2 separate regions of the Homo sapiens genome follow, and region 1 is linked to region 2. The links come from fine-mapping of genetic effects on gene expression. A gene starts in region 2. The other region holds a variant in brackets. All regions are shown on one strand. Distances are from middle to middle. Region 1 overlaps GSTO2 (glutathione S-transferase omega 2). Region 2 holds the start of GSTO1 (glutathione S-transferase omega 1).

Region 1 (8,333 bases), 22 kb after region 2:
CCTAATATATTAACTATGGATGTTGGGTGATAATATGTCAATGTGGGTTCATTGATTGTAATAAATGTACCTCTCTGATTGGAATATTGATAGTGGAAGAGACTGTGCATGTGCGGGGGCACAGGGTATATGGGAAATGTGTATTTTCTGCTCAATTTTGCTGTGAATCTAAAACTTTTTTTTAAAAAAAGGCTATTAAAATACATATATGCAGTTCAAATTCAGTGTGTCCATAAATACAGCCACACCCATTTGTTTATTTATCATCGATGGCTGTTTTTACACTACAAGTGTAGAACTAAATAGTGGAGACCAGATGGCCTGAAAAGCCTGAAATATTTAATATATGTAAAAACATTTGCCAATCATTCAGTTCATGGCATCTGATAAAGACTAAGATACTGGTTGAGATTGTTGCCGCTGGAGTCAAACTTCCAGGGTTCCTAGTCCTCCCTCTTTCACTTACTAGTTGAGAAGTGCTTAACTATGCTAGTCTCAGTTTACTCATCTTTTAAAGTGAATCAAAATAGAACAGTTATGGGACTTTTTTTTTTTTTTTTTTTTTTTTTTTTTTTTTTTTTTTTTTTTGAGACGGAGTCTCGCTCTGTCGCCCAGGCTGGAGTGCAGTGGCGCAGTCTCGGCTCACAGCAAGCTCCGCCTCCCGGGTTCACGCCGTTCTCCTGCCTCAGCCTCCTGAGTAGCTGGGACTACAGGCGCCTGCCACCGCGCCCGGCTAATTTTTGTGTTTTTAGTAGAGACGGGGTTTCACCACGTTAGCCAGGATGGCCTCAATCTCCTGACCTCGTGATCCGCCCGCCTCGGCCTCCCAAAGTGCTGGGATTACAGGCATGAGCCACCGCACCCGGCCCAGTTATTGGACTATTTTAAGAATTAACTGGGTCAATACACATGAAGCACCAAATATATATTAGTAATAATTTATTTTGATTTTGAGATTTTGCAACCCTCTTATGGCCTTTTTTAGGCTATGGATATATTTTTCTCAACTATCTTGAAATCTGCTTTTTTTATATGAGGGATGCATGTGTATGCCCAGAAGTCATCTTACCTACCAGGAGCTCTAAGATGACATGGTTGTGTTTCTTGCTTCTATTTTACCATCCAATTTGTCCTTCTTGATCAGAATTAGCTCCAAAGTAGTAGAAGTTACTCTGTTACTTTCTCTGTCTTCTTAAATGAAAAGTTGTCAGCGTAGCAAGCCGGGAACCAATATGTCTTCTCCAACACCAGATTTCTTGCTGACATATATGCATTTTATTTTCAGAGAACATTTATTCAAACATTTTTGCCATTCCCTGATTCTTATAAAATGTTAATACTTTCCATATTATTATCTAAGCTTATTTCACATGAAATCATTGAATGACAGCAAAAAATGTAGTTGAGTCACTATTCTGAAGATTTGCAAAGATTCTTATTCACTAGCAAAAAATGTTAACACTATTATTAACCAAGAAGTTCTGGATAGACTGGAATTCCAAAGGCCAAACAGTACCCAGTTATAAGCTACATAATTAGGCTCTGTCATTTTAATAAAAGATATTTAGATTCAAGTATTATTTGTTGAGCAGCCATTACGTGCTATATCTTTTCCTGGACTTAAAATCCTTTCCTCCTAACACTATTACCAGTTTTAAAGGTCAAGACAACGAGTCAAGCTTTGGACTTTTAAAGTTCTTCAACCCTACTAGCTGGTCACTTTGGGCAAATAATTTCATTTTTCTGAAGCTGTTTTCTGTTTTGAAAAGTAGAAATAATATGAGTTGCCTGACTGAGCAATTGTAGGAATCAAGGTAATCTATGGAAATAATTTAGTCAGTATGAGTGAGACACAGAAAATATTTTTCTTTCCTTCATGATCTGTTAATCCTACAAAATGCATTTACAAGCAATTCCCACATCAGCTCAATTCTGGAAAATTTAAGGAATTATTTTTTTACCTGCTGAAATTCAGGATCTCAGCTTATCAGCATCAGAGCCAAAGCCACGTCTATTATCTCACGTAAACAGAAAAGCTGTGCAAGTCGCCCCTATATGGCTGGGCTGTTGGCAATGTATCCTTGGCAACTAGTAAGAGTGTTCTCAAAAATTTATGCTGGGGAACGGGGGAAGCTCACAAATTGTTCTTTGCCTCCAGGTATCTTAATTTTATTCATTGCCAGTTTTTCAGAGCTTGGGTAAAATCTCACAAGTAGGGCCAGGACTGGGATGAGGCAACTGAGGTGTCTAGGGTGCAAAATGTGAGTTGTCTAGACACCAAAGTTGTCTAGGTGTCTAGGAGGCACTCACTCTCTGGGGTATGTGAGATTTCAACACCAATGACTTTTTCTTTCCTAGTTGCTGTATCATGAGAATGTTTGGCCTTATTATTTTTTAAAGCTGTACTTACTTACCAAAGAGTGGCCAGTTTAGTGATGCAAGAGATTCAGAATGGGAAAAAAAAAGTCAGCTTTACCCTAGTCAGTTTTGATTAAACTCCTTTGAAATCCATGTTGGAGTTTAAATGCCCATTCTTGAGGGATTCTTGATGTAGAGGAGGCCCCTCCAAAGCTTTAAGCACATGTCCAGAGCAAGGGGGAGCTTTTCTGGTGTTATTTTGTCTTGTTTTGTTTTTTGCCAGCTCCTACTCTCGGGCTTCCAAATCTGGGGCGATGTCTCCCCAGGTTAAATTACCCTAGCTCCTGCTCCAGATCGCTTCCCCGTGCCCCGCCAGAGCCCAGTAGTTCAAAAATTAAATTTGGGGCAAGGGGTGCGCGCCAGAGCGCAGCTGTTTCTGGAGCCTGCGGCAGCGGTGGCGAGCCACAGGGCGGCGACCGTGAGCTCCGGGAGCTGCGCAAACCACCTGGAGACCATGTCTGGGGATGCGACCAGGACCCTGGGGAAAGGTGAGTGCTCTCCATGGGGTCCGCGAGCTGGGGGCGCCGCGTGACAGAAAATGTTGGCTTCGGCGGAGCTGCCTGGCCTTGGCCTGCAGACCGGCGGGGCAGGAAGGGACTTGGAGGGCTCTCCTGAAGAAAAGCCACATGCAGCACTGCCCTCTCTGGGACTTGGGAGTTGGAGCTCCCACAGCCATCTTGGGATCTGGGCAAGTGAGCGAGCTCCTTCCTCACCGGGCTGACTAGCCTCTCCTTTCCCTGTCCCCCTCCATCGCTGCTCTGCAGGAAGCCAGCCCCCAGGGCCAGTCCCGGAGGGGCTGATCCGCATCTACAGCATGAGGTTCTGCCCCTATTCTCACAGGACCCGCCTCGTCCTCAAGGCCAAAGACATCAGGTGAGAAGCGGGAACCCAGAGCCCCCGAGCAAACCCAGCGCCTCACAGGAGCCCGGGAATGTTTAACATCTGGGGCGCCCTGCTCAGCTTTTACAAGGGGCTCCCTGTCCCTTTTTTCGGAGGCAAAGTCAACAAATAGCAAAGGGCGAGCTTTTTTTTAGCGGGCCCTACTGAAATGCGGAGCCCTTTTCCGAGTCACGCCTATGCATGAAACTTCTAGCCCAGCGCAGAGTAATGTGAATGATGGGGCTGGTGAACTGGTTCCCTCCCAGAATGTTTAAGGGCACAGCCAACACTACTGAGGCCTTACCTGACTGCTCCACAGAGGTAGTTCCCCCACCACACCCCAGGCATCTTAGGTCACTGTTTCCTTTCTTTATTGAACTTACTGCATCCAGCATTTTCTTATTTGTTCATCCATCTCCCCTCCCCAGTCCCCTTCACCCATGTGCGTTCTCGAGGGTAGGAACTCTGTCTCTTTTATTCATGAGCTAGGAGAGAGCCTGTCACATAGTGGATGCTCAAAAAACATCTGTTAAATGAATGAACAAATCTTTCCAAACAATGAAATAGAAGGAATTGCTATCAAGAGGTGTCTGGAAGTTTTCAAGACACCTTGAAAACTTGAGAAATGGGTACAGATGCTTCCAAAAGGAAGTTTGCAAAACCAGCTCCTGCAGGTCTGGATTTGGAGGGCAGAGCAGCTTTGCTGGGATGTGGACTGCATAATGCAGCTGGCCTCCAAGCTAGAGTGTTGAGAAT[A/G]TGTCACTCCAGGCTCCCGACTCTTGTCTCGGAGAGTCCATCACAAGGGGGTGACTTCAGAGTTTCAGACTCATGTCAGAGAGATACAAAGACTAATACAGAGATGTTTTAAATAAAATTATGTAAATCTGCCTTGTTGAGTATATAGGGCCTGTATTTCCACATTCTTCCCTTTTGCTCAAATTAAGCTGACCTTAAGGTTACCTGTTTTTTGAGGAAAATAACAACAACTGGATGTTTTGCCCATTTGGTGATAAATTATCAGCTTAGGAGCTGATGTATTTCCTTAGGTCAGCGTTTCTCAAACTTGGCACTGTTGACAGTTTAGGCCAGATAATTCTTTGTTGGAGAGGTGGGATAGAAGCTGTCCTGTCCATCACTGGATGTTTAGCAGTATCCTTGGTCTCTACCCATTCAATGACAGTAGAGTCCCCCTTCCCTATGCACTACCTTCAGTTGTGACAACAAAACCATGTCTCCAGACATAGTGATATGTCCCTTGGGAAGGAGGCCAAAAATCACTTCTAGTCGAGACCCATTGCTTTAGGTTGAGACCCACTGCTTTAGGTCTTGCTATGTGGCCTATGCTGGTCTCGAAATCTTGGGCTCAAGCAATCCTCCCACCCTGGCCTCTCAAAGTGCTGAGATTACAGGTGTGAGCCACCTCATCCAGCCTCTGCTGTAGGTTTAAGACAATCTCCTAGACTAAGCAATGAACGTTCCCATTTGTTTCCTTTCATGTTTTTAAACATACGTTCATGCTTCTGGTAACTATATAGTTATCTAAATAATAATTGTATTATGTGAACATTAAATAATAATAGTATTATTTGAACATCTAATAATTAGAAGAAGAATTAAAAAAGTTATTGCATGCTTATGTGCCAGGCACTGTCCTAAACACTTTATACATATCCCCACCACAGTACCAAGAGATGGGTGTAATTATTAGCCCCATTTTATAATTAAGGACACTGAGCACAGAGAGGTTAGGAATTCGGTTAAGGTCCCAAGCTAGACCGTTTATTCTGATGCCAAAACTCATACTCTTAATTGTTAACATTTACCATATTCTGTTGTGACCTGTTAATACCAGATTTGTATTTTCAAGCTGTAGAATGTACTAAACTCTCTAATGCCATGGTTAAGTGTGTGAGCTCTGAGTCTGTCTGCCTGGCTGTGATCTTGGCTCTACTACTTTTTTTTTTTTTTAGATGGAGTTTCTTGCCCAGGCTGGAGTACAGTGGTGTAATCTCAGCTCACTGCAACCTCCACCTCCCGGGTTCAAGCAATTCTCCTGCCTCAGTCTCCCAAGTAGCTGGGGTTACAGGCGCCCGCCACCATGCCTGGCTACTTTTTTGTATTTTTTAGTAGAGATGGGGTTTTGCCATGTTGGCCAGGCAGGTCTTGAATTCCTGACCTCAGATGATCTGCCCGCCCCAGCCTCCCAAAGTGCTGGGATTACAGGTGTGAGGCACCGCGCCCGGCCAGCTCTACTACTTCTTAGTGGGTGGTATTGGGTGTGAGATTCAACCCCCTTGAGTCTTCTTTCCTATGAGGTGAGCCTACTTCAGGGGGAATTATGAGGAACAACTGAGATAAGGCATGGAAAACATCCGACACATCTTACTGCAGGAAGGAAGATGATGATGTTATGTATTTTATACAAAACTTAAACCTTAAAACACTAATTGCAAATTTTAACTTTTAAACTGATTGCTTCTGCTTTCAAGAAGAGTGCCTGCCTGCAGATGCCTCTCATTTTTGTTCTGTCTTGTTTTCCTTTTGCTTTTTAAGACATGAAGTGGTCAACATTAACCTGAGAAACAAGCCTGAATGGTACTATACAAAGCACCCTTTTGGCCACATTCCTGTCCTGGAGACCAGCCAATGTCAACTGATCTATGAATCTGTTATTGCTTGTGAGTACCTGGATGATGCTTATCCAGGAAGGAAGCTGTTTCCATATGACCCTTATGAACGAGCTCGCCAAAAGATGTTATTGGAGCTATTTTGTAAGGTATATTCAATTTAAAAAGTCACTCACACTGTATTTTACTTTGCATGTCTTTCCCAAACCTCAACCCATTTTAAAGCCAAATCATTGGTGAAACTGTTTTGTTTTGATACCATGTGATCCTCAGGAGATTAGCTAGCATGGAATTAGGGTAGAGCATGGCCACTGATATTAAAGGCTTAACTGCTAGGCGCTTCTCCATTTCAACTGGCAGGCTCAGGAGGTATGGTTATGACATGGCAATGACCGTGTAACTTGAAGCAGGAATACTGAAAGAACTGAAAACTGGTGATCCTTAAAGGGAGTATTTCTCCAGCTTCAGGTAAAAAGTAATGGAGTGCGAAGATTATGCATAGAAGGTGATGCTTTTTTATTATTTTTTTTTTGAGACGGAGTCTCGCTCTGTCACCCAGGCTGGAGTGCAGTGGCACCATCTCGGCTCACTGCAACCTCTGCCACCTGGGTTTAAGCAATTTTCCTGCCTCAGCCTCCTGAGTAGCTGGGATTACAGGCGCATGCCACCACACCCCCTAATTGTTGTATTTTTAGTAGAGATGGGGTTTCACCATATTGGCCAGGCTGGTCTTGAACTCCTGACCTCAAGTGATCTGCCTGCCTCGGCCTCCCAAAGTGCTAGGATTACAGACGTGAGCCACTGTGCCTGGCCAGTGATGCTCTTTAGAAGCATAAGAGTGCCTGCTGTCCAGGAAATGTGAAGAATAGATAAATGGTGGCAGCTTTGATAATGAAAGAAAAAAGAATGGAGAAATTTTAAGATGGTGTCTTTGAAAAGGAATTTTTAAAAACCTCAATGATATTAACAGCTGACATATATCGAACACTTATGATGTGCCAGGCACTGTCCTAGTTACTTTGTAGGAGCTAACTCATTTAATCCAACTGCCCTTTGAAGTGGGTACTGCTATCGTATCCATTTTTCAGATGAGAACACTGAGGCTTAGAGAGGTTGAGTGTCCCACCTAAGAATGTATAGCATGGAAGCAGCTGATCAAGTAAGGAGCACTGGAGAAACCCTCCTAAAGCACCCTGCTTTCCCAGGGTACTATAAGAAGTAGATTCCTACTGAGAACCGGAACCACAGAGAAAACCTAGTGCCTCTCACAGGGAGCTGGGGGGTCTGATGTGGGTGTTGCCCTGTTAGGCTGGAGTTATAAAGCTTCGCTGCCTTTTCAGGCAGAACAGGAACTGGAAGTTTCCACAGACTTCTCCACTGAGAACCTGTGTCCTCTGATTAGGTCCCACATTTGACCAAGGAGTGCCTGGTAGCGTTGAGATGTGGGAGAGAATGCACTAATCTGAAGGCAGCCCTGCGTCAGGAATTCAGCAACCTGGAAGAGGTACAAAAAGGGGTCCCTCTCCTGGTCAGCTACAGTGGAGGAAGCTAGGCAGGGTCGCTAACCTGGTCACTCTAACACCAGCTTTCACAGGCTTATTCTTTCTGCCTTTGATAAGTCAGACTTCTGATCATCTGATTGCATGTTTGCCCTCCTCTAACCTGGTCTAGAATTATTCTGGAAAATCTGATGAGGAGTTGGGGAGGACATGCCATGAATTGCTTCCTTTCCCAGAGTCACCCCATCTCCCTGAGTAGCTCTGCATGGCTTCTGTAGCTTCTGCCAATGAGGTCAAGGTCTGTAAAGGTTAGGGGTTGTGTTTGGCTGCTGAAGTCTAACTACTGTAAATTCATGTTGTAAGGGTTTACTCTCTCACATAACATTCTTTCTCACGTATTATAAGGGTTTATTCTCACACATACGGTGGCTCACACCTGTGATCCCAGCACTTGGGGAGGCTGAAGCAGGAGGATCACTTGAGCCTAGAAGTTTAAGACCAGCCTAGGCAACATAGCAAGACCCCTCCTCTACAAAAATAATTTTAAAAATTAGCCAGGCATAACGATGTATACCTGTAGTCCCAGCTACTTAGGAGGCTGAGGCAGGAGGATTGCTTGAGTCTGGGAGGTCAAAGCTGCAGTGAGCCATGATTGCACCACTGCACTCTAGCCTGGGTGACAGAGTAAGTAGGACTGACAAAAAAAAAAAAAAAAAAAAAAAAAAGCCAGAGGTAGGCAGTTCAGGCCTATCTTGATGGCTTCTTCATGACATTATCAGGAACTGAAGCTTTTTCTCTTTATGGGCTCTGTCATCCTTAGCACAACTTAGTACAAGGGTATCATCCTCAAAATAACAAGATAGCTGCTGTCACTGCAGCCATCACATCCAAGTTCCAGGCTCTGAAAAGG
Region 2 (8,333 bases):
ATCAAAGTGAATAGAAAGCTTTTCAAATGACAGCAGTCGCCACCTCATTTCTCCCCACCTGATCCTTTCCCATCTCAATGCCATTCTCTAGAAGCCACCTTCCAACTGAAGAAACAGAAGGGAACCAATACCCTGGAAGCACCTCCCTACATCATGCACCCACCCTTTTCCATTCCCTTCCTTTCCCCTGGATGTAGCTACCATCCTGAATTCTGTGATTATTGTTCCCTGCTTTTCAATTCTACCATGTATGCATGAGCCATAACTAATGTGCTGTTTCACTTTGCCTGTTTTTAAAGTTAACACATGTAGAATCATACCATATATATTATTGTGACTTGCTATTCTGGCTCAATATCATGTTTTTGAGAGGGATTTAAGTTGATAACTATAGCTGTAGACTATTTGTTTTCATTGTTGGGTAGATGTCCATTATATGAATACAACACAATTTATCCATTCTTCTTTCAATGGACTTTTAATATCCCCTCAATTTTTTTTCTATTCAAGCTTCTTCTTTTTTTTTTTTTTTTTTGAGACAAAGTCTCACTCACTCTGTTGCCCAGGCTGGAGTGCAATGGCATGAACTCTTGATCTTTAACCAGCAGAATCCTCTCAGATTAGTCTCTTAGGTTATTAAGAAATGTAGTTGTAAAAACGCATGTATTGTTTCCTTTTAACTGTGGCTATGGGCAGCATGTCAACATAAAAGGAAGAGGGTGAACCAAAATTAATGCAATTAGGTAATTTGAGCCAAGGTTGAGGGTTGCAACCCAGGAGTATAGGTTCAAGTTGCTCTGAATAGATACTCTCATTAGCAGCAGTTACAAGTGGATTTCTAAAGGCAAAAAGGGGCTTCAGGAAGTGGGCTGACATAGAGTTGTCTGTCAGGAATTCTCATTGGTTTACAGAAATAACATTGATTAGTAGCTGGCTACACATTGTTAAGCTATAGACTGTGGGTTATATTTGCTGTAGCATTATTAGGTTAATTTATAGCTACTTGTGGCTATAACAAGCAGTTTCAAGAGGTGAATACATAGCTCGAAGCGGGGAGTGGGGCATGATTGCTGTCTCATTTTAATGTCTCTTTGGGCCTAATAATTTGAAATGGCTCACATTCCTCAGATGAAAGTTCTATTCTTTCCTCAGGTGTATATTCAGATGTTTACACAACCACAAAGGACTTGGAGAGGACCTATTGTAATGCACACCAGTAATATAGTACGGTAGTTCACTGGGAGAGTATATTTTCAATTTCTTTCTTTGAGGAATTAACCTTTTACTTTATTTATTGATGAGGTGGATCTTTCAAATCATTGCAATAAAATATTACATTATTCATACTAAATTAGGGGACAGGGCATTCCAAGTAAAACTTTTAAAGTAATACCTTGATGTGAAATTTTTTTTTGGCCATTCAGAAGTTTTACCTTGCCAAGTTTCAATTTACAAGGTTATTTGCATGAAGTCATTAATGTGCTAAAAAGTCAATATCCTTAAAAAGAGTTAAGCAGTGCCCATATTTTAGCAAAAATGTGGTCGATTTTTAAAAATTTATATCTATTTCTTGCCTATTTACTAAATTAAATCAAAATATGTAGTGATCACATTTATTTAACATATTCTATGCCAAGCACTGCTCTGAGTGCTTTCTGTATAGTAACTAATTTAATCCTGCCACAGACTCTATGTCAGAGACGTTTGAACCAGAGCGACTCCATCTTGAGTGAGGGCTAGGAAGATGCGGCTGGGACTTGCTGGGCCGCATTCCCAGAAAGTTAGGTATTCCTAGCCTCTAGATGTTTATGGTTAAGGGAATAGATTGATAATGTTTACTAAACAGACCCAGACTTAGGAGTGTCCAGATATCCCGATATCTTGAGAACAAAGGCATTCCTAATTTTGCTTTAAAGATAATAATATTGATTCTTGCAAAACATAGTAATTATGAAAATTAACCCTTTATCACAAAAAGAGCACATCTCCCCATATCTTTTTTTCATCCTATATATACAGGCATTGAACCTGGGGTGGACGCCTTCGTCCTCTTACTTTCGGGAACACCCTACTCTGTCTATGGAGTAGCTGTTTTTTCACCACTTTACTTTCTTAATAAACTTGCTTTTGTTTTGCACGGTGGACTCGCTCTGAATTCTTTCTTATGCGAGATCCAAGAACCCTCTCTTGGGTCTGGATCAGGACCCCTTTCCCGTAACATCTATGCAGGAGGAATAACATGTGTTCCATCTTATTTTACAGGTGAGGAAACTGAAACACACTGAGGTTAGTGACTTCCCCATGTTCACAGTTAATAAGTGGTTGTTACGGGTTGAATTGTGCTCCCCCAATTTCATACATTGATGTTCTAATCCCCAGTGCCCCAGTATGTGACCTTATTTGGAAATAGGGTTGTTGCAGATGTAACTAAATTAAAATGAGGTCATACTGGAGTGTGAATGAAGATGAAGGCACAGATGGGGTGGGTGGTGCTTCTGCACTCCAAGGGACACCAAAGATTCCCTCAAACCACTAGAAGCTGGGAGAGAGGCATGGAACAGACTCCCTCACAGACTCCCTCCTCAGAAGGCAGCAACCCTGCTGACACCTTCATCTTGGACTTGTAGCCTCTAGAACTGTGAGGCAACACACTTCTGTTATTTAAGCCACTCTGCAGTACTTTGTTACCCTAGTCCTAGCAACTGAATACAGGGGTGGAGCCAGGATCAAAACAGGCAGGGTGCTCCAACACTTGGTGCTTTTCACCTCATTCTCTGCTCCTCCCATAATAGGGCTAATCAAAATAAAAATAGACATCTACCCCAATCTCACCCCAATAAATGGCACAGGAGTTACCAGCTTTCAAATCTAGGCAAACAAGGAAATCATTGAATAGTCTTTTTCCTCATCTGTATGATGGCCCTGGAACCCCTCTTTCCTGACCCCTAAGTTAAAAGAGCTGTTTGAGAGGACTCTCTGGCCAGACCTTTATTCCCAGACCCAAAACTAAATTCACTCATGCCACCTGCTTGATTCTGAGCCTGTGCCCTTATTGTAACTGAAATGCAGGTTCAGTTGCTTCCCGCTTTCAGAGTCCAATTATTAATAAGAAGAGCAAAGTCTGGTATAAAGAAAGTGATTTTTTATTCCAAAGCTAGCTTAGGGGGAGCAAAACAGGCTTCCTGCCTTAAGGGTACCACTTTGCTTCTGGGGCAGAAAGCAGGGGCTTTTAAAGGGGGCAGTTGGTATGAACTGCATGCTGGGGAGGGAGCGAGTGGGTGGGGGTTCGCATGACTCACTTTGGTGCTTTATCTGCTGGGTTGTGCCATCATGGGCAGAAGTCATTTGTAAAGTGGCCTTGTCTCAGGCATACTTTTGGATGTAAATGGACTGTTATCTCTGGAGGCAGTCTCCTGGGGGGTGAGAGTCCTGCTCTGGAGCTTTTAAGTAAACACCCAGTTAGATAAGCTTGCCCTGTAGGGAGTGTCAGGTGAAGGGAAGGTAAAAGATGATAATTGCATTTCTAAAGAGCTAAGTAGGAAGTGGGGAACAGGGAGAAAGGAGGAAACAGAGAAGATGGGAGAAATAAATAATGTAAAAAATAACTCATCCTCTATCTCTTAGAAAAATGGGAGTACTGTTATATTACCAGGGCTCCAAAACACAAATGTTTAATAAGTGGGAGAGTTTTGAAAGCAGCACCATTATTCTGAGGTTGATAATATCCAGGTTTGTGCTGTCTCCTATGGGTTAAAATGAAAAGGATGTATCCTACAGGTGACGGTAGGGACAGAGGCCCTCCCAGTAGTCACGTTAAGCTAGTACTGACAGAAAAAGGAAAAGCCTGTCCAGGTGGCTGGGCAACCCTGCAGCGAGGCATAGATGAGCTTGTAAATCAAAGGAAATGACCAAGGTGAGTCTCAATCCTTTTAGAGGTTTATTTTGCCAAGGTTGAGGACACATCTGAGAAAAAGGAACACAAAATCACAGGAACATCTGTGATCTGTGCTCTTTCCAAAGAGGGCTTGAGGACTTCAATATTTAAAGGGAAAGAGCAGGCAGTAGGGGAAAGTGGAAAGTAAAAAGGGAAGGTAGATAAAAGGGGAGAGTAGTTGCATTCTTTGGGGCCTTTGATCAGCATTCACTGAATGCGCATGTTACATTCGTGAAAGGAGGTCGTAGAGGAATAGTCAGTTATGCATTCGTCTAGTGCTTGGTGAATCTGCATTTTTACAAGATTAAATATAGGGTAGAGGAAGCGGTCAAATTGCATTTTTCTCCAGCGAGAGGAAGGATGACTCCTAGACCTGTCTTTGTCCCATACTTGGGAAGATAAGCTGTTAGTTTACATTGCCAAGATGAAATTCAACTGATCTGTTTTAGAGTAAAGATCTTGCGGGCCAACAAGGAATTTCCTTGGGGAGGTGTGTGGCCTTTGATCTTTGTAGCTATTTAGCAACAAAATGGGAGGCAGTGTTGCCTGACTCAGTTTCCAAGCTTGACTCTTCCCTTTGGCATAGTGAGTTTGGAGTCAAGAGATTTTTATTTTCCCTTCACAAGCTGAACAGGAGCCTTTGGAGAGAACGCTCTGGACCGGTGAGTGAGCCATGAGGTCGGGCCACAGGCTCTGAAGTCGTGAAGCCTTGGGACGGAGCGGGTGGTGCTTCGAGGTCAGTGTCACGGGAGGGAGGTCAGGGTCAGGGTCAGACGTGGAGCCCCGTGGAGTGCGGAGTGGTGACCCCTTCGTTCGGGGGCGGAGGGATGACTGAGCATTTATAACTTTTGTGTATCTCCCCGTGGGTGCAGCCCTTGGCCAGCGAGATGCTTTGACACAGCCCCTTAAGATGTTTTAAGGGCTATCCCATAAAGCCGGGAAGGCACAACGGGTGGAGCTGGCGGCCGCCGGGGGCAGGCACTTTTGAGCTAAGGAGGAAGCGGGGGAGGGAAGGAGGGCGGGAAGGACGCGCCACCTACTTCCTGAATCCCCTGCAAACCCCAGAGGAGCTCGGCCTGCGCTGCGCCACGATGTCCGGGGAGTCAGCCAGGAGCTTGGGGAAGGGTGAGGCCTGCCCGCCGCGAAGAGGGGGTGATCTCGGCGACCCCCGGCGGCATGTTCGAGGCTGCTCCGGGAGCCCAGCCGCCCGGGAGCGCCCCACCGGCGGGGAACGGGTCGGAGCTGCAGTGGGACGCGGGGGCGGTGGGATACGGGGGGTCTCGACACCTCTCTGGGCCGTAATCGCCTTCGCTTCTCCCCGGCAGGAAGCGCGCCCCCGGGGCCGGTCCCGGAGGGCTCGATCCGCATCTACAGCATGAGGTTCTGCCCGTTTGCTGAGAGGACGCGTCTAGTCCTGAAGGCCAAGGGAATCAGGTGGGCACCCAGGCGGGGGACGCTCCCCGAGCCGTCCGGGAGCCTGCTGCAGGCGGCGGGGTGGGGTGGGGTCTCAGCCCCCTTCTACCCCCCTCCCACCAGCGTCCTTTACTGCACATTAAACTATTCTCGGCCCTTTGGAAAATAGCAAGTTATAGGCCATTCCCCTAGGAAAAATAGGCCACAGATTCCAACGGTCTAGGACACCTCATTTAGATTAACCAACCATTTAATGGATTAGAAAAGCTGAGGCTCCAGTGATGTTAGTGATTTGCCCGGTAATAACCGGCAGCAGCTCTTTTAGCTTTGGTAGGTCACGAATTCCTGGTCCAGAGTCCTTTCGCTTTCGCCCTATTGTGATTTCCCGTTCTTATTCCAGCTTAACTGTTAGTTGTTATTCTGAATGTATTGTTCCCTCCTAGAATAGTAATTTACCCCAGTACAGCAGAGTTTAGACCCTGACCCTCCTAGGGTAGTGCTGAGTTTACTGCACATATTCCTGTGGATTGGGCTGTTGGTTGAGTCAAATAGAGGGAAGTGTCTGTCTAGCTCATCCTTCTGCAGAGCCTGTTTTGAAACTAGCATAGTTTTTGACTTACGGGCTATCCACAGGATATGTGCAACAGTCACTTGACTTTTCTCTGACACCAAGTATCCATTGGAACCACTTCCCTTCCCATGACCTTTGGATGTCTGTTGATTAGACATTTATTAGATACCTTTGGTGTGGAAGGTTCTGTGGAAGTTTAAAACAAACCCCCTATTCTTAAGGAATTTTCTGTCTGTGTGCTTAGTGTTTGTGAACTAATTTTAGTCTTCTAAGGGGATAATCTTTAGGGGTAGGCAATTATTTTCCCTAAAAGAAAGGTAAAATGCATTTAAAAAATACATTTGAAGGGGATTTGTCATTACTTCACTAAGAAATGCATCTCATTTGGATGAGATTATGATTCTGAACACATAGAGTACTTACTATTTCATAATGTTTCTCAAAAACACTGTCATATTTGCTGTGATAGAACTCTTTTATTGTACTAAGAGAAATCTAATGTAACCAAAATTGAAAAAAGACATTTTTTGGTACTCATTTATTTGAAAAGTCCAGGAGCATGACACAGCTGGATTCAGAGGCACAAAGTCCTGGGTTATGTGCTTCACCCTGGACCTTTAGTTTGAAAACAACCCTACCTTATTTACTGGGGCAGTTTTCCAAAGGAACATTGAAACTATCTTCCCCTAATAGTGTGGGGTAGAGGGGAGGAAGAGAGTGGTTAACAGCTTCCAGACAGTGCAAACAACAAAGGTCTACTACATTAATAGACCAGTTTTAAGCTTGAGCCCGAGGAGGCTTTTACTGGGAAAGTACTAGATTTTAACCACATGATATGACTTAACAAAGCATGGTTTTCTCTAAAAGATGCATCTTCCAACTTGCTGTGGCAGGTGTGTAGACTTGTTGGCTCACAATGCCAGCTTACCAAAATTCATGTGTGTTCTGACATACTTTTTTTTTTTTAAATAACAAAAGCCCAGGATCTTTTTGTTTTCATAGTAACAAAAGTTTTTGTTTTATAGTTCAAAAATGTTGATAATTCTTTGGCAAGGAGCCAAATAATTTTTTTTTTTTTTGCAATGGCTGGTACTTAAGTGTCCAGTATTGTCAGCACATGAACCTTTTAAATTACATGCACACCTGTGCTCATGTTCAAATTGGATGTTCCTTTGTTTACATGGGGGATTATGTATTTAAATCCTCAAATGAAATGCTGTTCTAGCTACAGCTGTGGATGGGAAAATAGAAAACAAAAGGTATTGGTGTCTATTTTTTTTTTAGTAATCTGTTCTATTGAACATTTATTCAGCCTTGACAATCATATGGACCTAGCTCCTTTCTCTTAGTTCCTCTACAGTCTCAGGCAACATACAAGATAGACCTAAATACAATCTGACTATAGCCTGGACTTCACCTGTTTTCTTCCTTTTTGGTTTACTTTGTATGATTTACTCAGACAACATTTTTTAAAAAATCAGTACATGGAGATTTAATCTGAAAGCTTATTTTGTGGGTGGATTTTTTTTTTTTTTTCGAGACAGGGTCTCGCCCTGTCACCCAGGCTGGAATGCAGTGGTGCAATCATGGCTCACTGCAACCTCTGCCTCCAGGGCTCAAGCAATCTTCTCACCTCAGCATCCGGAGTAGCCGAGACTACAGGTGAGTACCACCACACTTGGCTAATTTTTATATTTTTTGTAGAGATAGGGTTTCATCATGTTGCCCAGGCTGGTCTTGAACTCCTGGGTTTAAGCAATCCGCCCACTGCAGTCTCCCAAGGTTCTGGGATTACAGATGTAAGCTACCAAGCCTGGCCTTGTGGGTGGATTTTAAGGATTCCTTAATATCTTCATAAAAACCAAGAAACTTTTTACTCAAATTAGCAAAATAAATTGAATTTTATGTTGGTTCTCATATAGTGGATAGTGGACACAATTCAATTAGTTGCCTCATATGATTTATAACTAAGATACCTCTTAGCCATAAATGGAGTATCTTATTGACAATTTTGAAGCATTTCCACAGATTTATTCATTCATTTATATGAAATATTTCAAAACAAAAATATTTACTGAGTCCTTATTTGAAACTTTTTATTTTCTTCAGAGCATTTATATCTATATAGCATTTTGCTCATTTACATGTTTGTTTATTACTATGAACAGATACACAAGATCCCACCTTTCGTGAAGCTTACATTCTAGGAAGATAACAAACTTGTAAATAAGTGAGCAAAGTAATTTCAGATACATATTATCAGTTCAATGAAGAAAGTAAAACATGATAATCATGTAATAGAAGCTGCTCAGCAACTTCAGAGCTATGGTCAGGGAGGGCCTGGGGATGTGTGTTTGACCTGGGAAGACCTGGGAAAAGGCAGGCAGAGGAGGCAGAGGACCATCAAGTGCAAAG

What was found. PIP is the estimated chance that this variant, and not a neighbour inherited with it, causes the effect.
Region 1: its variant is fine-mapped to the expression of GSTO1 in lung (TOPMed, PIP 0.94).

Annotation. Positions count from the first base shown.
Region 1 is chr10:104,272,044-104,280,376 of GRCh38, forward strand. It overlaps GSTO2 (glutathione S-transferase omega 2), which reads left to right. Exons shown (of 7, transcript NM_183239.2): 2 at 2,642-2,906; 3 at 3,183-3,291; 4 at 5,851-6,073; 5 at 7,327-7,428. The coding sequence starts at 2,873. Among named protein-coding and RNA genes, the nearest start is that of GSTO2, 7.0 kb to the left of the region's middle. The variant A/G (reference allele first, on the strand shown) is at 4,054.
Region 2 is chr10:104,249,904-104,258,236 of GRCh38, forward strand. GSTO1 (glutathione S-transferase omega 1) reads left to right here and starts at 4,989. Exons shown (of 6, transcript NM_004832.3): 1 at 4,989-5,059; 2 at 5,260-5,368. The coding sequence starts at 5,026. The region is part of intron 1 of LOC124902497 (a long non-coding RNA gene); the gene reads right to left. RefSeq lists enhancers at 4,157-4,671, 5,006-5,065 and silencers at 5,136-5,395, 5,886-5,935.